Homo sapiens: one gene and its partners. The protein of the gene in region 2 binds, or shares a complex with, the protein of the main gene of each other region. Each region holds a gene or a part of one and is shown on either strand. Other genes may lie near its edges. A codon is read from its position in the direction of its gene.

Evidence for each region.
Region 1: NFKBIA (region 2) and CHUK share a complex: the UniProt entries of both Homo sapiens proteins name them as parts of the 70-90 kDa complex.
Region 3: the proteins of NFKBIA (region 2) and NFKB1 are in contact, whole or in part, in a crystal structure (PDB 1NFI), measured with the Homo sapiens proteins. Residues at the interface, in NP_065390.1 of Homo sapiens: Asn108 (codon at 2,033), Asn109 (codon at 2,030), Leu110 (codon at 2,027), Gln111 (codon at 2,024), Arg140 (codon at 1,608), Tyr181 (codon at 1,485), Pro214 (codon at 989), Cys215 (codon at 986), Asn216 (codon at 983), Arg218 (codon at 977), Tyr248 (codon at 887), Gln249 (codon at 884); in NP_001158884.1 of Homo sapiens: Lys251, Ile252, Val253, Arg254, Met255, Asp256, Arg257, Thr258, Ala259, Pro326, Lys345, Leu348, Tyr350, Ile353.

The regions. Positions count from the first base shown.
Region 1 is NC_000010.11:100,226,573-100,234,155, reverse strand, and holds the start of CHUK (inhibitor of nuclear factor kappa-B kinase subunit alpha), read left to right. Parts: upstream 1-4,559; 5' UTR 4,560-4,623; coding exon 4,624-4,728; intron 4,729-7,583. Other genes in the region: CWF19L1 (CWF19-like protein 1), read left to right, coding at 785-929.
Region 2 is NC_000014.9:35,401,672-35,409,722, forward strand, and holds the start of NFKBIA (NF-kappa-B inhibitor alpha), read right to left. Parts: upstream 3,079-8,051; 5' UTR 2,974-3,078; coding exon 2,747-2,973; intron 2,128-2,746; coding exon 2,019-2,127; intron 1,690-2,018; coding exon 1,479-1,689; intron 1,189-1,478; coding exon 1,100-1,188; intron 993-1,099; coding exon 723-992; intron 390-722; coding exon 342-389; 3' UTR 1-341. UniProt on the Homo sapiens protein: Inhibits the activity of dimeric NF-kappa-B/REL complexes by trapping REL (RELA/p65 and NFKB1/p50) dimers in the cytoplasm by masking their nuclear localization signals.
Region 3 is NC_000004.12:102,504,343-102,511,446, reverse strand, and holds part of NFKB1 (nuclear factor NF-kappa-B p105 subunit), read right to left. Parts: intron 568-7,104; exon of another isoform or gene 515-567; coding exon of another isoform or gene 498-514; intron 1-497.

The DNA of each region.
Region 1 (7,583 bases), on a different chromosome or scaffold from region 2:
AGTGGAAAATGAACCATATAAATGTGTAATAGAATTATTTCTAATATATCAAAATAAGTAAAAATAAAAATATAAAGCAATGGCGATTAGAAGGCAGCTTGTGTGTGAGTGTGTCTGTATGTAGTTATTCTTTAGTCCTAAGAGCCAAGATAGTTGTTTTGTTGACATTGGGCTTGTGCTGCTGTTACGTGGGCCTGAGTCCCCTAGAAGGAGAGGCAGAGGAATTTTAAATCAGAGTGGGTATGACTAGGCTCCTGACTCTGCAAACTCATGTCTAGTTGAGGTGACAAAACTACAGTTTAAGGCAGGTTGTAATCACAGCTAATATGGCACTTTGACTGTGTTATCTCTGTACCTCACAAAAACCCTGTATGGTGGGTGTTCTTATTTGCATTTCATAGGTGAGGAAATCAAGACTCAGAGATGAAATCATCTGTCTAGATCATAGATAGCAAGTGGCAAAGCTGGAAATGGGATCCAGTCTCTGATCTTTCTCACACCAGGGCCTGCCCTTTTTCTATGTGGTGTTGCTTCTCTAAGTACCAATAATATAGTTCCAAGTTTTTTAAGAGAGGGAGAAGCAAGTGGGGTTTGAAGGATCAGGAAATATATAGTACCTGAGCTGGTCATTTAAAACGGGTATGATTTTGATCAATAGTATGGCAGAGATGGCACTCAGGGCAGGAGAGCAAAGTCAGAGAAATTTGCATACCTCCTTTGGGTGATGTTGAGGAGAGCTCAGGCTGATAGTTTCCATTTTGACTTCTTTGTGCTATTTCTGCAGGGAGGTCCTGGCCAGTGAAGCCATCCTTAATGTTCCTGATAAGTCTGACTGGAGGCAGTGTCAGATCAGCAAGGAAGACGAGGAGACCCTGGCTCGCCGCTTCCGGAAAGACTTTGAGCCCTATGACTTTACTCTGGATGACTAAAACAAAGGGAAGAACTTTTTATGAACTCCACAGGAAGTAGTAAAGCTTTTTTTTTTTTTTAATTAAAAGAATTTTTTTTGAGACAAAGTCTCGCTCTGTCACCCAAGCAGGATTGCAGTGGCATAACTGTGGCTCACTGTAGCCTCAACCTCCTGGGCTCTAGAGTTCCTCCCACCTCAGCCTCATGAGTAGCTGGGACCACAGGCGCATGCTACCATGCCTGGCAAACTTTTTTGATTTTTTATAGAGACAGGAGGGTCTCCCTGTGTTGCCCAGGCTGGTCTGTAATGCCTAGGCTCAAGGGATCCTCTGCCTTGGCTTCTTAACCTGCTGGGATTACAAGCATGAGACACCATTCCTGGCCTAGAAGCCTATTTTTAAAGAAACTACAATCTCCCATGGGGACTGTTTCCCTGCCTCTTTTGTGCAGTCCCATGGAACTTGCCTACAGCAAGAGGCCTAAGATTGAATCTTTTTGGGGAAAAGTCATTCTAGGATGAAAATCCTATGTTAAGGCCGGGCGCAGTGGCTCACGCCTGTAATCCCAGTACTTTGGGAAGCCGAGGCAGGTGGATCACCTGAGGTGAGGAGTTTGAGACCAGCCTGGCCAACATGGTGAAACCCCGTCTTTACTAAAGCTACAAAAATTAGCTGGGCGTGGTGCCAGGCACTTGTAATCCCAGCTACTCAGGAGGCTGAGGCAGGAGAATTGCTTGAGCCTGGGAGGTGGAGGTTGCAGTGAGCCAAGATCGCTCCATTGCACTCCAGCCTGGGTGACAGTGAAACTCCATCTCAAAAATAAAAGAATAAAAGTATGTCTGTCATCCAGCTCCTATGTCTGTTATCCAGCTCCAAGTACAGCTTGTGTATATCAACATTTTCAAAAACCTTTAAACTACCAAATGAAATCCAGATGTTTTTCCATGGTTGAGAAGTGTCTTGTGTTCATGTTGCCTGTGACCGTTGAAATGAAGTAGTATGTGTAATAGCAGGGGCTAGAGCTTTAGGCCCAGCTGTTACTCCAAAATCACACAGGGCAGTTTCTCCCTGAACAACCCAAAGTGGAAAAGGGATCCAAGGCTTTTGCTATTTTTCTCTTAAGCATTCATCTTATTCATAGATAAGAGCCCATTTAGTCCTTCGGATATTTAACTCCTATGTGCCAGGCATTTTTCTAAGCTCCAGGACCATAGTCATGTCCCAATATGGTCCCTGTTGTCCCAGAGATTACAGTTTAATGGGGAATAGAAGGGACAGATTTAAGAAAAAAAAGATAATTCTCCTTTGGATATTGTTTTAGGTGCTTGATATATCTAATATGTGTCTGTTGTGCTGCTGGGCAGTTCTAAACTCATCAGTACCTGGGTTGGTTACAGGGCTTTGGGGATCATCAGGGTATAGGCCATAGGTGAAATTAAGATAGGGTAAATACAGTCCTGAGCTGAAGATGATTACCTGAGAAATATCAGTATTTAAGGAGTGCTTGAAAATAGTGATCTAACATTTACATAGAGAAGGAGCAAAGAGAATGCTACATATTAGGCGCAAAAAGAAAAATATTTTTACCTTTATATTGGGCACTTATGGTCCAGACACTGTTTCATTTAATCTTCACAAAATCTCTGTGAGGTAGGTATTACCTCTATTTTACTCATGAAAAAAAAACTGAGACTCGGAAAATTGAAGATTGTGGAGCCTGGGGTCAACAGGCTTAGGCTTTTTAAAAAACAGGCCAGGTGGCTCATGCCTGTGATTGCAGCACTTTGGGAGGCTGAGGCAGGCAGATGACCTGAGATCAGGAGTTTGAGACCAGCCTAGCCAACACGGTGAAACCCCGTCTCTACTAAAAATGCAAAAAATTAGCTGGGCGTGGTTGCATGCGCCTGTAATGCCAGCTACTCGGGAGGCTGAGGCAGTAGAATTGCTTGAACCCTGGAGGTGGAGGTTGCAGTGAGCTGAGATCACACCATTGCACTCCAGCCTGGGTGACAAGAGTGAAACTCCATCTCAAACAATAACAACAACAACAACAAAAAACAACTCAAATTACTCATGGCCCTGGGAATGGGGGCATTTAAAAAGTTAACCAAGGGAACCAACCTGGTTTCCACAAAGATGGCCACTTCTGGGTCAGCCCAATCATCAGTATCCCTGGGTCCTCAGCATCCCTTCCTACCTCTTTTGACTGGGAATTACGAGATTACAGCCCCACCTACGGAAATTGAGCACATTAGCACTGGCCATGCTGTACATACAGCAAATGAGAGGGCTTCATACTGTTACAACAATCTGTACCACAATTCTCTGTGCGGTCTGCCCAGCTCTAAATGACATGTCCTCAGAGGCATCATCATCTCCAAGTCCATGGAAACCATGCACTTACAGAAACCAGAACCTCCCATACCACATGTTACTAATGACCTACAACATCGACTTCGTCTGTATCATGCAGTGCTCAACATTCTGGTTGCAGCATCACATTTATCAATAATTTGATTCCATGCTGATTCCTTTACTTGGAGTATTGAGATCCCCCAGGTACAGTGAAGGTATGACCCTCTTAAATGGAAGACCAGGAGTTGTTTCCCCTATGCTATGGCAATCCGCCACCCGGAAGCACTTGCTGCACCAACAGCATTCCCAAAGCTTGCCTCTGCAGCCCTGTAGCACCCATTAGAAACACTTCTCACAATGAACTACTGTGCTGGCAAACCCATAACTGGACTGCCGGACAGCAAGCTCTGTGAGGCATCTAGGAAAAAAGCTCGCGAAATCCCGAGAAACACTCTTCACTCCGGAATAGCGTCACATTCTTGAGTCATTTGGGATGACAGGGGATATCCTGGAGCAGGTGTATTGGGAAGTCAGTGAACAAGAAGGCTAATTCATTAGTGGGCCTGCTAGCGTAGTATTTTAACGATTTCGCAGCCTTTAAATCATTGGTGGTCTTTAGCGTGCCGGATCAGCTGGTGGTGGAGTTGGAGGATAGATGGCAGGGATCTGAAGAAAGGTGAAGTGTAGATAGGAGTAGAGACAATATGAAGTTTAGAAAAGACTAATTGCTGGACGCGGTGGCTCATGTCTATAATCCCAGCACTCTGGGATGCCAAGGTGGGAGGACTACTTGAGACCAGGAGTTCGGGACCAGCCTGGGCAACGTAGCAAGACCATGTCTCTACAAAAAATAAAAAATTAGCCAAGCGAGGTGGTGCGCGCCTGCAATCCCAGCTACTCGGGAGGTGAGAAGATCGCTTAATTCCGGGAGGTCGAGGCTGCAGTGAGCCGTGATCGTGCCATTGCACTCCAGCCTGGGCAACGGAGCGAGACCCCATCTTAATTAAAAAGAAAAAAATACAGGAGAGACTGGGCTGCTTTGAAAAGTGGATTTGACGGGAATGTGGGGTTTGGAGAGATCTTATGTTTTCCAAGACTAGAAAAACATTGTGGTTCCGTTCAGCCCTCCCGGAAAATACGTAGGGGACTTAAAGAGCGGACCGAGTACCTGTTTGTTTCCCCATCCCTTAGCCGGCAGGGCTCTGGCAGCGCCCTGGGAGAACTTAGGGAAGGGCCTTCTCGCAGCGGTTACCGGAAGTGACGCATTCATTCTCGCGAGAACAAAGACGCGCGAGCATCGGCGGCCCGGAACCGGCCTTGGAACAACTGTGGAACCTGAGGCCGCTTGCCCTCCCGCCCCATGGAGCGGCCCCCGGGGCTGCGGCCGGGCGCGGGCGGGCCCTGGGAGATGCGGGAGCGGCTGGGCACCGGCGGCTTCGGGAACGTCTGTCTGTACCAGCATCGGGTGAGGCGGGGCGTGAGAGGGAGCGGCGGTGGGTTGGAGCGGCGGTGGGTTTGAGCGTCTGTGGAACACAGGGCTGACAGTGTGGGATAGATGGTTGGTGGGACCTTGGGCAGTATTTGGGGGCCAGTGGGCTTGTGTGTGTGTATTAGAGAGAAAGATACTATGCCTGTGTGTCCAAAGTTGTATTTGAGGTACTGGGCATAGATAGAGCTGTTGCGGGGAACTTGGGTATGACTGTCAGGCTGTGACCAGGTGTTTAGTGAGTGTGACAGTGCGTGTGTGTCTCTGTGAATGTGGAGTGTCAGGGTGTGTGAGGCAGATGCACGTCACAGTGTGTATGTAGGAGCACGAATGTGTGAGAAGAGGGCTGAAGGGGACTGCCTTTGGGAATGTGTGCGTCCGTGTGTGTGTGTGTGTGTGTGTGTGTGTGTGTGCGCGCGCGCGCGCGCGCTTGGAGGCCATATGATATCAGTGGGGACTGGAGTAGACAAGGAAGGCTTCATGATGGGTCCAGAGTTAAGCCTTTGGAAGCATGGATGGGCTTTGGAATTGGGGATGTATTCCAGGTCGGGACAGTATGAGGGTGAGTTGGTGCAGAGCATGGCTTCAAACGAAAGGCTATATTAGTAGATGGAGATGGGGGGCGCTCTAGTAGGTGGAGGACAGTTAACATCAGACTCAAGAATTTTACTTTGATTTAATAGAGAATGTTTAACCATTGTAGTAGCAGTTAAAAAATCATATTTGGGTCTTGTTTGTTTGTTTTTGTTTTTGAGACGGAGTCTCACTCTGTCGCCCAGGCTGGAATGCAGGGCGCGATCTCGGCTCACTGCAGCCTCCTCCTCCCGAGTTCAAGCGATTCTCCTGCCACAGCCTCCTGAGTAGCTGGGATTACAGGCGCCCGCCACCGTGCCTGGCTAATTTTTTTGTATTTTTAGTAGAGACGGGGTTTCACCATGTTGGCCAGGCTGGTCTCGAACTCCTGACCTCAGGCGATCCACCTGTCTCAGGCTCCCAAAGTGCAGAGATTATAGGCGTGAGCCACGGCACCAGGCCTGGGACATGTATTTTTTGATATACCGATAAAAGCTGTGAACCCTTTCCCCAGAAAAATGCACAGATGCACATTCACACAACCATGCATTGCCATTTGAGAGGTTCGTGCCTTCCTAAAGGACATTTTAGGTAAATAGACCCTGGACTAATAATTCCTGTAATATAGGCTTTGTTTTGTTGCCTGTAAAGTAAGTATAGTATAATAATTACATGCATCATGGATTTGAGAGTTAAATAAAATAGTAATGTGTGTAAAGCTAAATACGGTACCTGACCCATGAAAGCCCTCAACTGTTAGCACCTGCTGCTACTTTGTTGTTGTTGCTGCTATGATCATAATGCTCCTCATTAATTGGCCTTAAGGAAATGTCAAGATAAAAAGTGTTGTTCTAGGAAAATGGTTTTGTAAAGGATAAATTTGAGTGGAACAACATATGGGACAAGATGAACAGGTAAGATCTTACTAAAATGCCTGGGCTTGGCTTGTGAATAGAGAAGTTAATTCAAGAGGAAAAGTAATAATTTGTTATCTAAAGGAACATGGGTGTAGTGAGAAAGCTCGTAATTTGGGGTGGGAGAAAGGGGAGATAGGAGTCTACCTTGGGAAAATAGGCATATTTAGGGTAATTAGAATGACAACTGAAACTGTTAGAACTGAGGAAGTTTTGTGAACCAGGTTTCTAGATAGGGCATAGGAGAAAATCTTGGAGAAAGAGAATGGAAGGTGAAGGACTAAGGCATTAAGTCCTGTGATAGCAGGATAAGTAGTAAATTTAATAATTCTCACCATCAGAGGGAACATAACACACTAAAAAAAAAAAAAAGTGGGAGCCAAGTGCTTCCAGTGGCATGTTGCCTGTGTTACCTAAGCCTGCCTATCCGCCTGGTCATAAGGAAAAAGGATGCATGCTGGCAGCTTTTGTGACTTCTTTTCTTGGTCCCTGGGTGGGGATGGATGAATTAATCACTTTTTGTTTTATTATGGTAAAGTATACATAACACAACATTTATCACTTTATTTTTAAGTGTACAGTTAGGTGGCATTAAGTACATTGACGTTGTTGTACAGCCATAACCCTATCTCCAGAATATTCCGACTTTTTTGTTGTTGTTGTACATCTATAAACTTCCCATAGAATATTCTTTGTGAAAAGGTAGAATTTCACAGAGTTGATGAAATATAAATTAAGGAGTTGAAGGATCTTACAAAGTGGGATTTTTGAAATAGATAACTTATTGCTCCATTAACATGAGCATTCAGGGCTCAGTGTTGTTCATGGTTGTGCCTGATTCTCATTTCCATGGTGGTAAAGGCCTGCATGGGACATAGATATAACTGGTCACCTGCTCATAACAAAAGGAAGATTGAAGGGAGTGAGAACTGTGGGTAGGCTAGCATGCAGTCTATCCTAGTTTCCTTCTTCTCTATGCACCAGGTATCATCTTATCTCTAGCTTCTTTTTTCCTCTCACCCTCCAATTCACACTACCCTATCCAAGCTATGTCTTGCTTCCCCACCTATAATATATTTTTTCTGTCCTGGCCCCTGGGCTCTTCTCTCTGTATTCATACACAGCCTTTATTACAACTCTGGTTTGTGTCAGAGATTACATATGTTGGAAATTCTTTTGAACTCTCCTTGTGATATCAGAAACATAGTGTAGCCTGTTTAGCCCTGACTGCTATTTCTGAGCTGCATTATTAATGTTGCCAGAATATGATGGGGTCTGGCTATTTCCTGTAATATGCATCAGAATGGGTTTAATTTCAGTCAGAATTGGCTAAATTACTAGTCACAG
Region 2 (8,051 bases):
GTCACAGGATACCACTGGGGTCAGTCACTCGAAGCACAATAAATATAAAATGTGGTCCTTCCATGAAATTTTTGATAACCTTCTCCAAAAACCCCACAAAGGTGAGGTTTAAAAGAAGTTTTCTCAGAATTTCAATGATCTTTCTCGTCCCCTACAAAAAGTTCACAAAAGCAACAAAATGAGGGCTGATCCTACCACAATAAGACGTTTTGGGCCAGGCAGTGTGCAGTGTGGATATAAGTACACCCTTTAAATTTTTTCTTCTTTTTTCTTTTTTTAGAAAAATAAAACTTTTTTTTTGTACAAATATACAAGTCCATGTTCTTTCAGCCCCTTTGCGCTCATAACGTCAGACGCTGGCCTCCAAACACACAGTCATCATAGGGCAGCTGAAAACAAGGGGAAAAAAGACACGTTAAGCTTCCGGAGCGGAGCTCTGCCAAGCTACCGGGATGGGGAGGCCACTACTGGAAATAACTCTTGGACTCCATTCTCCATAGCCCAAATATAATGAACTTTACAGGCTGAGAGAGTTTGCCTTTAATGCTTCTCTTTAAAAAAAGAGGGGGGGCAGGTACATTCTTGGGATACTGGTTATGCACAGAAATTTGAGAGACTCATTATGTAGATACCCCTCTGATAAGGAGCAGCTCTAGGGGCCTGGGAGGGTGAAGGGAATGGCACCTCATTAGTTAGAGCGCCGAAGGAGTTCACAGACTCACCTCGTCCTCTGTGAACTCCGTGAACTCTGACTCTGTGTCATAGCTCTCCTCATCCTCACTCTCTGGCAGCATCTGAAGGTTTTCTAGTGTCAGCTGGCCCAGCTGCTGCTGTATCCGGGTGCTTGGGCGGCCCCAGGTGAGCTGGTAGGGAGAATAGCCCTGGTAGGTAACTCTGTTGACATCAGCCCCACACTTCAACAGGAGTGACACCAGGTCAGGATTTTGCAGGTCCACTGCGAGGTGAAGGGCAGTCCGGCCATTACAGGGCTCCTGAAACCAAAAGGAATTTGAGATGCTTATGGCTGCATTTGGAATTTCTGCTCACAACATAAGCACGAGGAGCCTGACTCAGTGCGTCGGGGGCAGGAAGCACCAACCTGAGCATTGACATCAGCACCCAAGGACACCAAAAGCTCCACGATGCCCAGGTAGCCATGGATAGAGGCTAAGTGTAGACACGTGTGGCCTGGAAGAACAAAAGGAAAAAAGTATAACCACCTGTTTCAACCCTCACTCCTTTCACCTATTCTTTTATGGAACAAGTAGTCTTATCTTCTGAATTTTAAGAACCCACAGTCTGGGTTCTGAAAGAACTTTATAAAGGCATCCAATAGGCACTTTGCACACATATTTTCTCAACCTTCCAAATGTTAGGAGTTTAAGCTCTTGCCTGGACTCCTTAAGTTGGCCCACCTGCCCCTTCTCCACGTCACCTGCCCTCCGAGGGGGTGGGGCAGGGCAGGGAGGCAGACATACCATTGTAGTTGGTAGCCTTCAGGATGGAGTGGAGGTGCGGGGTGGTGCAGGACTGAGTCAGGACTCCCACGCTGGCCAGGCAGCCCTGCTCACAGGCAAGGTGTAGGGGGGTATTTCCTCGAAAGTCTCGGAGCTCAGGATCACAGCCAGCTCCCAGAAGTGCCTCAGCAATTTCTGGCTGGTTGGTGATCACAGCCAAGTGGAGTGGAGTCTACGAATGCAAGAGAGACCAGAGAAAGTAAGCCATGGACCAAACCCACACCCCGAGTTCCCCTCAACCCGTGTCTCCTGGTTGGGTGCTGCTCCTCCTAGACAGGGGGGTGGGGAGGGCTGGCAAATAGCAGAGGCTCCAGGTGGGTCATAAAGACCTCACCAAATCAGTGGAATTTCCTTCACTCTCTAGGATGTGGGCTGATGTGAAGTAAAAGGTGAGGGTAAATAGTGCTCAGTGGCCCTGAATTCAGAAAGGATCTGGGGTGACTCTGCTACATCAGCTACGTCCCAGGGTCAGAGAGAACCCGGGCCAGGCAAGCGGCGCACCTGCTGCAGGTTGTTCTGGAAGTTGAGGAAGGCCAGGTCTCCCTTCACCTGGCGGATCACTTCCATGGTCAGTGCCTTTTCTTCATGGATGATGGCCAAGTGCAGGAACCTGTGGGGAAGAGAGGGAAAAACCCCAGGGGTGGTGAGTGCACCGCGTGGGGCCCAGGGAGGCGCGGGCTGCGGGGGATTGCGCAAGGCCGGGGTTTCTGGAGGCCGAGGCCGCGGTGTTTTCCGCGAGGTTATTATGAGCTGAGTGTTCCTGGCAGGCGCCCAGGGACTTTCCGCCCCCCTCCCCCCGCGGCCCCGGCGGGCGCCGGCCAGACCGCCCCGCCCTCCCGCCAGCTCGGAACGCCCTGTACTTCCCCTCCCGGCTGCTCGGCGCCCGCCAGCGGCCAGAAACTCCCGCCCCGCCTTATGCAACCGGGGACTTCGCGTCCCCGCTGCCGCCCCGCCCCCGGCCTAGAGGACGGGTCTGGGGGGAGGGGGCGTGTGGCGACGCTGCCATCCACCAGGGCCCAGCCGCCGCCCCTCCGAGTTGGGCCGGTGCCCCGCGCGGCCCTGCAGCCCTGCAGCGTTCGGGGCGGTGCAGGAGCCCCGGGGTGCCGCGGCGCCCGCCCGGCTGCATCGCTGGTCCCCCGGCTCGGGCTCCAGGCCCGGCGCCTCCCACCCCCAGGCCGCGCGCGTCCCGCCCTCCCGACGACCCCCAGCCCCGGGCCTCCGCCACTTACGAGTCCCCGTCCTCGGTGAGCTGCTGCTTCCAGGGCTCCGAGCCGCGCGGCACCTCCTGCGGCTCGAGGCGGATCTCCTGCAGCTCCTTGACCATCTGCTCGTACTCCTCGTCTTTCATGGAGTCCAGGCCGCTGTCGTGGCGGTCGTCCAGTAGCCGCTCCTTCTTCAGCCCGTCGCGGGGGCCCTCCATGGCCCACTCCTGGGGGCGCTCGGCCGCCTGGAACATGGCGCGGACGAGCTGCGGGCGCTGCTGCGGGTGCGCTGGGCCGCGGGCTGCGCGCTGCTTCCTCGCTGGGGCGCTGGCGGGCGGGACGGCGGCACGGACTGCTGTGGGCTCTGCAGCGCCGCCGCGGCGCCCTATAAACGCTGGCTGGGGATTTCTCTGGGGCGGGGTCAGGCTCGGGGAATTTCCAAGCCAGTCAGACCAGAAAAAGAGAACTGGCTTCGTCCTCTGCTAGGGGGAAAAAGAAGCCTAAACCCTGAGCTGGGGTTCATCGGAGAAACTCCCTGCGATGAGCCACTAGGGTCACGGACAGGGAACTTTTTGATGAGCGCCGAGTGGCTGGAAAGTCCTTCCGACCAGGCCCCCTCCCCCCGGTACTTCCCTGCAGCCTGCACCCTGTAATCCTGTCCCTCTGCAAGTGAGCCTTCTTTCCCTGGGGTTTCCCACGATCGATTTGAATTGGGGTCGTCGGCTGCTGAGATCCCAAGGACGCCGACCTGATGGGCGGTCCCTCTTTGGGGTTTGCCAACCTGCCGGTCCTTTCCGTTTTTTGATCTTTTGAAAACGCAAGAGTGGAAATGATGGCTGGGCGTAGGGATTTGCTTTCCCCAGACTTCTAAGGGGAAGGACGCACTGTGGTTAGGGGGCTGCAGGCCGCGCCGGTGTTTCTGCCTATACCAGGCTCTTTGCAGCAAAGGAACTTTTAGCTTCGCCCCCACCCCCCCACGCACCCCCGCCAGGTAGAAGTTGTGAAAGCTTTGGAGGAGTGAAAAGCCTAAATCCTTGGAGAACTCTCAAATCACTTCCTAGGGATGAACAGCCCTGTTGACTGGGGGAGGGGCAAACGCTCCCTGTATGGGGAAACTGCTGAATAGGACCATGATTTTTTTTGTTTCCCAAGTAAAGCAAGGTGTTAATGTTTGTAGTGGTGGTTGTGGATACCTTGCAATAGCAGAGTAGCTATTGTGTTCATAAGTAGCTATTCGTTTATGCTATCTGACCTACATTGTGCTCCCGCAGAAAAAGGATCGTGAGCCTACTTCTGGGCACCCAAATTCGAGGAGAACTTAGAGAAGGAGGCTGAAGAATGAGTTTAGTTAGTGCCTTAACCGCGATTGGACCTTAAGGACCACTAAGAAAGTAGTTGCCAGGCATCCTGCGGGAGGCTCAAGGTAGTCCCATCCTGCCCGCCCCTCCTTGCTCTCTTGTCCTGGGGGACAGTAGCAGTTGGACCCATTCACGCCACCTGGGTAGAAAGGGGTTTCGGCTCACTATGCTCTGGTTTCACCTGCAGAAATATAATTTATGCTCTCCACTCCACCTCCACCTCCAAGCCTGCAAGCCATGGACTGAATTCATCTACTTGGTAGAATTGGTACAGGCAAAATAAAGCAAACTTCGGTCAGAGCTCTTCAGAATTAGTCCCAGGAGGCCTCTGTAGTTCTGCAGAGATTTCTGGTGATTATTGCAATCATCTTTACCTTGACTGGCCTTGTACTAACCAATCCTTCCCCTCTCTTCGTATCTCCACCCCTCCCCTAATATTAGAATGAAAGAAATCTGACTCGATAGAGAGAGACCAAGTATGAAGGGAAAAAAATTAAAATCAGATAGACCCTCCAGGGTAATAATGATCACATGTTACAATGAAAACTTCCCAGGGATAGACACCATTGTCTCTGCAGGTTTATGATATGCAAATCTACAATGATTGAGGCAAGGTGAAACAGTGACTGCAATGGGACATCTCAATTCCAGGTTCTATCTTTACTTGACTGCACATTAGTTGGAGAGGTCAGTTAACTTTTTTGTGGTATACTTAACTTTTATAATAAGATTAGATTGAATGTTACTTAAGGTCTTTTCTAGCTTAAAAGTCATATTGCTTGTCTACAAATGCATGCCTAACTCTCCTTTGTAAGGGTGACCATGGCTCTTGGAAATGTCAGGGTATAAATTTTTGAAAGAATTCCAGCGCCTTATGTACCACATTGTTCTCAGAACTAATCTTGTAAGATAGATATTGTTCCTACTTCCCTAAAAAGAAACTGAAATGCATAGAAATTTACCCAGGAACCCCTTGGCAGTATATTAATCATTTGGCCAAAGCAGTCTTAGTATTAACACTTTTGAAAACACGCTGTGAAAATCAGACTGACTACACTATAATTTGGAATGTACTCAAAAGTATTTTCTACTCCAACTGTTAGGGAAAATAAAGGGTGGGTGTCCCCTGACCCCCATCTGGGGATAGTCACTTCTTTTAAACAAGTACAGAAACATCAAACTCTAAATGTCCCAATTATAGAGGATACATCAGAAGAAGATATTTGGCTTCAGGTATAAAAATGGTTATAAAAAATAAAAATATCTGAGGAATAAGGTTTTTTTGCACCACCTTCTATGGTTTTATATTTCTGGTAGCCTTCAGGATCTTGGTGTTTATTCCTGATTGTTTTGTGTGACACCTAGTGGTAAGAGTAAGGCACAGGCGTTCCTTGATTTGTCATAGTGCCTTTTGCAAAAATTGGGAGGTGCTGAGCCTTGATGACTTGTCCCTACAGTGGAGATTTCCAAGGAGGTACCTATTGTTTTCCTGCGACTCTGGGAAACAGTTTTGAATAATGTGATCCAACAGGTTTTCTCCCCATCATCTATAGCGCTATATGGTTTAAGTCAACAAACATTACAACGTGGGTGAAAAAGAATATACACTTGGAAATTAGAACCATGAGCAGACTGGGCAGAAGACAACAAGAGGGTCTGGTTTTGATTTAGAAAGACCTTTATGGGCCAGGAGTTGTGGCTCACTGCTGTAATTTCAGCACTTTGGGTTGCTGAGGCAGGAGGATTGCTTGCCACCCAGGAGTTGGAGACCAGCCTGGGCAACAAGGCTAAACTCTTGTCTCTACAAAAAATATAATTAGCAGAGTGTGGTGGCAGGTGCCTGTAGTCCCAGCTACTCCAGAGGCAGAAGTGGGAGAATTGCTTGAGCCTGGGAGGTGGAGTTTGTAGTGAGCCATGATGGCACAACTGCACTCCAGCTTGAGCAACAGACTGAGACCCTGTCTCAAAAAGAAAAAAAAGAAAAAGAAAGACCTTTATGGACCCTTCAGCACTCAGATTTTTCTCCTCCTCATTGTCAAACATTCTAGCTAACATAACCGTTAAAAAAAATGTTAAAACTGTAGGCTGTGCGCAGTGGCTCACGCCTATAATCTCAGCACTTTGGGAGGCTGAGGCAGGTGGATCATGAGGTCAGGAGTTCGAGACCAGCCTGGCCAACATGATGAAACCCCGTCTCTACTAAAGATACAAAAAATTAGTCGGGTGTGGTGGTGCAGATGCTGCTTAGGAGGCTGAGGCAGGAGAATCACTTGAACCGAGGAGGCAGAGGTTGCAGTGAGCCGAGATCGCGCCATTGCACGCCAGCCTGGGCAACAGGGTGAGACTCTGTCTCAAAAAACAAAACAAAACAAAACAAAATACTTTAGATAACTGATTTTTAATGTTATTTGGCCTTTTTAATGCATAAGGCAAAATAATAAGTTACACCTCAAAGCTGCTTTGTATTTTGGCCCAGGACGCAGCCGTAGGAAATGACAGGACGGCCAGTGATGCTCCAGGAGCACCCCCATGGGAAAAGGAGCATCGCCAGGGCCTGGTTTGGCTGCAGGCACTTCAGGCACTCCTCCTGCATGGAACAAGCACAGTATGGACAAAACCTATTGCCTGAAGTGCCATGGAGAGAGTCTACAAGTTCAGCCAGGTGGTCCAAAATCCTCAGGGCAGGGTGGCCTGTGTCAACTGGCCTGGCCAATTAAAACTAAATTGTTTTGGCTACAGCAAATTCAACTCTGGAATCAGGCTACCTATTGCTCAGTGCAGCTAGGCTGGAAGAAAGACGAGCCATGACAGAGTTCCTGAAGAGCAAGGCAGGTGCACTCCCAACTGGCAGCCCCACTGTGAAATTCTAAATATTCTGCTTTCAGTCTCAGGTTGTCTTCTTTCTTGCTATCGTGGTAGCAACTGTCTGCATCCTCTTCAGAACAGGGAGCCCCCAAGCTATGGATCTTTTCCCATAGAAAAACAAGGCTGGGGGCGGTGGCTCCGACCTATAATCCCAGCACTTTGGGAGGCTGAGGCGAGCTGATCACCTGAGGTCAGGAGTTCAAGACCAGCCCGGCCAACATGGTGAAACCCCATCTCTACTCAAAATACAAAAATTAGCCAGGCGTGATGGCACATGCCTGTAATCCCAGCTACTCGGGAGGCTGAGGCAGGAGAATCACTTGACCCTGGGAGGTGAAGGTTGCAGTGAGCTGAGATCGTGCCATTGCACTCCTGCCTGGGCAGCAGAGAGAGACTCTGTCTCAATTAAAAAAAAAAAAAAGGAAAAACAGCTGTCAGAACCTTCATTTGTAGTGAAGTGAAAATAAGACCGTCAAATCCTTAATGTGTTTCCTTTGCTACAAATTCTGCAATTTAATGGAGATCAAAGCTTTAAAGGATCTCAAACTCAAAATACTTACGCATAGGGAGCAGGCAGATTTCACAGATGAGTGAAACAGACCATTTGAGTCTGAAAGGAGTGGGATCTCCAACAGCTTAGGTCAGGGTGTGTACTTCCCTCATACTTAGCTCAGACAACTTTTGGCATGTAGCACCTTCAGTTCAGTAGTGACCTTCTATTGTTAAAGAAATAAAAAAAATTGGCCCAGCTCCGTGGCTCATGCCTGCAATCCCAACACTTTGAGAGGGTGAGGCAGGAGGATCACTTGCGTTTAGGAGTTTGAGACCAGCCTGGGCAACATAGTGAGACCCCATCGCTATAAAAATAAAAATAAAAAAATTAACCAGGTGTGGTGGCATACACCTGTAGTCGCACCTACTTGGGAGACTGAGGTGGGAGGATTGCTCGAACCTGGGACGTTGAGGCTACAGTGGGCCATGACTGTGTCACTGAGCTCCAGCCTCAGCAAAAGAGTGAGACCTTGCCTCAAACAAACATAAAAACATTATGAAAACTAAACACAATGCATTTCTGCATCTATTGGCTAAACAGAGCCTATAAGCTCTGA
Region 3 (7,104 bases), on a different chromosome or scaffold from region 2:
CTTCTCGGCCTCCTGAAGTACTGGGATTACAGATATGAGCCACTACGCCCAGCAAGAAAATTTTAAAAACTGAAAAGACTACATGATTTAAGCTCCATGAATTTCTGGATTTCTGTCTTGTTTGGCACTGTGTGCCTTGTCCTTAGAACTGTGTCTGGCACATAGAAAGGACTCAACATATATTCAAATAAATCACTGTTAAAGAAATAAAACCCTACTTATGTTAATCAGCTTGATTTAATCATTTCACAATGCATATGTATATCAAAACATCATCTTGTGTACCATAAACATATATAATTTCTGTCAACTGTACTATACTAAAGCTGGAGGTCAAAAAAAAGGAAGGAAAAAATAATAAAAAAATAAAAATCACACTATACGAAGATGGAAGAGCTTCTATAAACAAGCAATGCTTCCCCTACTCCACCCCTCCTCATCTCCAATCCTGCTTTTTAAAGGCTGACTTTTTAACACTCTTTTTCTTTTTAGTTTACCTGGTGGTTCTTTTCATATCTCCAAGATATGCTTCTGTCTTTTTTCTTGATGTAGGACGTTGTGTTCCTTCTAGGAAGGAACAGAGGAGGATTCAGCTCATACTACCACCACCTCCCCTTCTTCTCCCTCCAAATATAGTTATAATTAGTGAGACCTTGAATCAATCTAGCATTTAAATATTAAACTTTACATTCAATTTTTGTCTCAAGTTTTCCATAAATTTCTTTGGAGAAATATGAATGCGAGAGACTGAATAATAATGAAAAAATGCAACACCAGAAACATCTGGATTTGAGAAAGAACCTACACTGAGACCAAAAATTATAACTTATTATCGACAAAATGGGCAGTTCCTCATATTATCATACTGATAATCAAGAATTGGCTTGGTACTTACTCACATGCATTTTTCTTAAGTTGACCTATCTTGATATGGCAAGAAAATCTGAAGTCTTCCAATTAATACAATTACATCAAAGAAACACATAATTTTAGAGAGAGATGCTCATTTTGTCAAACCTCATTTTTTTTACAGAACAAAAATAAGACTCAGAGAAGTTAATTAACTTGCTCAGAGCCACACAGTTAATTGGCAGCACTGTCTCTTGATATCTTGTTCGGTATTTACTTATTCAGCAAACACACCAGGTGCTGTGCAAATAAAAAGTAAATAAGATGAACTCCTTGCCCTCAAGATGTTTCTTTTCTAGGACCCACAGGAATTCAGGAGAACACAGAATGGGGGCACATAACTCTTTATGGAAAGGGGAGGGAGAAAACAGAAAGGCAAGTGAGAGAAATGGTGATGCTCAAACCAGGCCTAAGGGTTTAGAAGTTAGCAGGATGGCTAGGAAAGAAAAGGCACTTCTCATACAGGGAGGGCATAAGCAAAGGCATTCAAAGTCAGAAACTGTGGATAGGAAACTGAAAGTCGGTGTGGAGGATTTGAGATTAGGGGATGGTTGGGGAACACCGGAGGGAGTAAGGGGGTGAGGTGTGCGAGAATCAGCTTGTGAAGACAACTGGGATTCACTGCAGAGACATGATCCGATTTACACTTTAGAAAGCTGACCATTATGCGAAATGAACGATGGGTTAGAAGCAGGAGACAATGCAAAAATAAAATCTAGAAATTCAACGAGGAAGGGATGGATTCTGGAGATGAGGAGGCTGCCTTGATAGAACTTGGTGACTGACTGAAGAAGAAAGCTGAATGTATAAGAAGGGCTTCTAGATTTCTGGCATGAGAAATCTACTGAATGGACCCTAACAGGCTAACAACCGCATTCCCTAATGTGCTGGGGATACCAATCTGTGCAAAGGGGTGGGGATCAAGGATGATGAGAAATTTAATATTGGCATATAGATGTGAAGATACTTAAGTGCCTCAGCAATAAAATCATTTCTGTAGCTTGCCTTGAATGACTGGACTCCTACAGTTCAACAGATACTCAGTAAATATAGCACAATTACTCCAAAAGTCATCTATTTCAACACAGGATTGAACTACCTCTCTAAGCAACTTGGATTGACTCCTATTTGGCTATTACAGAAGACTTTCTAAGAGAAATGGGATACTTCCCCACCCATCACAAAAAAAGAATTGTAACTGCAGGGTAAATGATTATGTAATGGTTTAAAATAGGAAATATTTTTAAAGTTTCTAAGGATTGCTTTTTAAATTTGGTTAAATGTCTTAAATGGGAAATCGAGTAAATATATAAAGAGACACCATAAAGACATTATCTCAAATTAACGCTATGATATGGTATGAGAGTGAGTAAATGCATTTGACTATTGTTGGACTGCTGTGCTTTTGATTTTAATTTCCCAGGTACTTATATTTGCTTGATCGCAACTGACTTCTAAAGTGTTTTTTCATAATGTGGTGAAAAGTCCATTCTTACCAGTTTAGCAAAAATATGATAATCCATTATGAAATGTCTGCCGAAAGGTTCTATCCAAGGGCAATCTCTCTTACTTCTTTCATTATGACCCTCCATGAGATGAGATATACAATTTATCTCATTGTATTTCTCAACCATGAGATATATGATTTGTCCTTTTATTTATAATTCTCATTCACTTTCTAGATTATTCTATCTTCACATTCAAGTTGATAACAAAGTTTAAGTCTTAGTTTTATAGAGGACTCTTCCCCCTAAATCTTTATGCTTTCATTATCCTTTGCTTTGACCAATCTTTCAAAAGACTCAGGTTTAAAATCACATACACATATACAAACGATGCTTAACCTATTCACCTTATCATGTATTAGCAGTATAATAAATGAATGCATTAAATGAATAGGGTAGAGAAATGGCTATATTTTTGGTTCATTTTAAGCCATCTCCTCTGAAAAGTAGTTCCCCAGGTTTTTTGCTTGGTTTGAAATTAGCAGTATGAACACACTAAAAATTTTTTTCCTATTTCCTAGATTGTATATTCAGTTTTCAGTTTTGATTTTACGTAAATCAATTGCTGATTTAAGTACTTTCCTGACTATCCAACTGAGCAAAAAATTAAGTGTAATTTAATTTTAATTCTTAACATTGCTTTCAACTTCTAATTTCCTCTACATAAATAGCCACCCACACATGCTTCTTCCATCATTCCACATCATCATCATTTTAATTTTATAAATCATGAAGGTTCTTGTATTATATGCAGATGCTATAAATTGTAAGGTATTCTCCTCTGGCCTCATTACCAAGTCCATACCCCATTTAAAAGAAAAAGACACTGAAGGTTATAGATCAAGTCTTAACAGTCAAACACCAATACATGTTTAAGCCTTACAAAATAAGCCTATACTTAAGAACTGGTAGACAAAGAGGTTCTTCAAATATCAATAAAACATGATTTGGGAATTTGTGTTAAAACATCCAAAAATAGTTATTTTCTCATTCCTAAAATTCTTGTCATGGAAGACATATTTTCTAAGACAATTAAGTAATCTATTTTCACTATTTAAATGAACTGCAGGCTTGGGCTTAGAACCAATAAATAGGTTGATTAGGGAGTCTGTCATCACTTTTATGTTTTCTTTTTTACATACTTGTTATATGGTAGAATTGACGTCTGGGATAAAGAGGGATAGGTGTGCCCTAACACTGAAATATGGTATAGTATTTTCAGTCCAAATGACATGATAAATAATAAAAATAATTTTTTGAAATAACTGCTTTTAACAAATAAAAGTCATTAAAAACAAATTGCTTTTTAAAATGGGACATTATAGAGGTATGCTCAACTTTATGCAGGTCTTATACTTTCTTTAGTTCAAGTTAGTGAAAAGTAAATCCTAGAAATATTAGTGAGCCTCATTTATCAAAAAGGTTCACCTTGGCCAAGCTAGGTGGCTCACGCCTGTAATCCCGGCACTTTGGGAGGCTGAGGCGGGTGGATCACTTGAGGTCAGGAGTTTGAGACCAGCCTGGCCAACAGAGCAAAATCCCATCTCTACTGAAAAAAAATAAAAAATAAAAAATAAATTACAAAAAAAAGGTTCATCTCAAAGAAAAATCTAATAGCTTTATTTTCCAATATGAAATGCATGAATTGTCCATACATTTCTACTAGTAGCGTAAGGATTATAACAAAGTTAGAGCCTTGTTTGTTTTGTTTATGCTTCTCTTCATGCCCAGAAGCTGCAGACTGAACTCGTAAGGGAACACACAAAAATTTATCTTTTTCTGGAAGCCATCTCATGGGGAAGTCACAGGCAGAGTGCCTGGATTATTTTATTATTTTAACAAACACTGCCGCTATTAATCTTCGGAGTACTTTTCAACAATGACGGCTTTACAGTGCAATTGTTATAGATGTTAACATTTAATTTCTTTCTCATTTTGCTGGCAACAACAAAAAATATTATATATACATATTTGTAACTAATATATATTAAATATAATTATATTAGTTACAAATATGTATTTATACATATATCATTATATTTAATATACATATTAGTTACAAATATGTATATATATAACCTTTTTTGTTGTTGCCATATCTGTATATGTAACTAATATATATCAGTATATTTAATATACACATTAGTTACATATATATGTAACTAACTTTTAACTTAATTTTTAAACTTGAATGTTTGTTGTGAGTGATGTGAGGGGAGATCAGGGTCAGAACCAGAACTAAGTGGCAGCAAAGCAGAATGAACTGAAGTGAGCAGCGCTCAATAAAATGGTTGTTTTCCCACAGGACTGCATTAGGGTTCCCAGGGGGCACAATGACACTAGGACAGGGAGTATTGGCATTTTGCTCTTTTCTAGTCTAAATGGTATATTTCATTTAAAAAACTGTGTCCACAAAAAAATAAATGGTTCAATTCAGAAATTCAAGGCCAACTTTTAAAAAATGCTACAACTGAAAAATAATGAACAAACTGTGCTAGGATGAGGCCCCAGCTTCTATAGTGTTGGAAAAATCATTAAAGTATGAAAGTGGAAAGTACAGTAAACCCTGCTAACTGCCTGCTTGTTCCTGAGGTTTGCCATCTAGTAACTTTTAACAGTCACAGATTTATGGGTGATAGGTGTTTAATTCTAGAGGTAACATAACAAAATAACATATTTTGTTTTAACTTTTTGGTTGATTAATTTAGATAAGTGTTAACAATTCTTAGATTACCAAGCAGTGCTTGTAGCATTGTTTCTTTTTTGGAGGTATTAGTATTTGATATTACAGTTTCAATGGAGTGTACAGAAATTCTAACTTCACCAAAAAATTACATTTTTCAATTTTACAAGCACCTTTTATCATTCCAATTACTTTATAATCTTGCTCTGGTGCCTCTAAAACTTTGAAACTAAAAGGCATTTTTTTTCTAGTTCATAAATGCCTCTTTCAGAATGAAATGTTCCCCTTTTGGAAGGCGCCAGATACTTTTTAATAAATTATTTGTTCTAGTAAACTTCAAGTGGTCTTTAGATAAGATTTCCATAATATCTAAGACACAAGGACTATTTTGTGCTCCTTTCTTTCCAGAAGGCAAAGCAAAATAATGTAATTTTTGTTCCTTATAGAAGATGGCTGTCCATTTAAAAAAAAATTTTGCAACAACTTCATATCATTCATTCATTTAACAGTTAATGATTGCTTACTATGTACCAACAAGTACAATGCTAAGCATCAGATATTTCTTTCGTCAGTATTGATTAGATATTATTTATTTTTAGTTAAACTAGAGTATTTGATTCTCTCAAACAGCTTTTTCTTTATTTCATTTTTTATAATTTTGGCTATTTTAAAGAATAAATTCTTTTCTAAAGCTTAAGCAGTCAAAATTTGTCACAGTTTAAACTAATAGGATCCATAGATGAACTCAAGTCTGTTGATATCTACTGAAGGCATGGGTCAAAATAAAAGCTATTTTAAGGTTTCTGGATTAATGGTGAAAGATGAATGAAAAATAATAAGGCAATTTGTAATGGATAATTAAACCAAATATATCATTATTCTAATTTCAAAAACAGGCAATAAATTAAAGCAGATGAAATTTGTATTACTGATAATTAATTCTGTTTGTTACTACAGAAAATATGACACAATAAAAATTGTTTTCTTTTTAAAATGTAAAATGCACTATTTTTATTATTAGTACTCTAAATTAAACAAATATTTTCATCCATAATCTATCTTCTGAGATTTCTATAATCTTTAACAAATCACATCTTATGTGACTCTTATTCTGTACAGAACTGTCAGGCTTTAAATTATTTGAGGTGTAGCAATGCAATTTGCACAACTTATTTTCTAAACTGTTGGCTGATCTTCAAGGCCAGGTCAACAACCTCCGGAAATGTAAAAGACAGTATATTAATTTGCACCCAGGAACAACCCCTAATACAGCAGAGACCAAAGGTATGAAGCAATTTCATCATCATTAAAAGAATGTTACTACTTTTTTCTCTTTTTTTCTTCTAAAAGTGAGGCACTGGATACTAATTAATGAAATACTACAAAGATAAAAGGCTTGGTTATGTTACCAGAACTATTAACTGTCCAAATTATGTGGTTTCAAATATTAATCTTTTTTGATTAAAAAAATTCACAGTCAAGGAGCCAAACTGACTTGCAGGACTATGCCAAAACGTTCAAACCTTTCTCCCTGAGGCTGAGTACCTTCAGTTCTTCCAAACTGTCTGTCTCCAAAGTAGTGACAAAATTCAAAGAGAGATCATATGCTCTTGATGGTTTATTGCTGACCTCTAAGAACACTACAAGTGAGTTCAGTATTTATGGGAGGTGCAAGAGTGCAAATGAGAACTAATTCCCAAAAAGCAGAGTAAATTGCTCCAGTATGGTCTACTGTTTACCAAGACGTAGTCATCAATTAATGCTGATTAGACACAAATGTAGATGTAGGAGCAGAACATCTTAACATATCCTCTAGCACTAACTTCTATTTTTCCTTCTCCTTCTCTTCTAATATAACAATCCCACTACTGTAGACAATTCACCTTGTAAACAGAAAACCAACAGACCAACCGAATAAAACAAACTTCCTACTAAAAGTAAGAAAATTAATGAGAAATTTTGCATAGACATCCATTCCTGTTAATGTGATTTCTGATCAATCTGTGG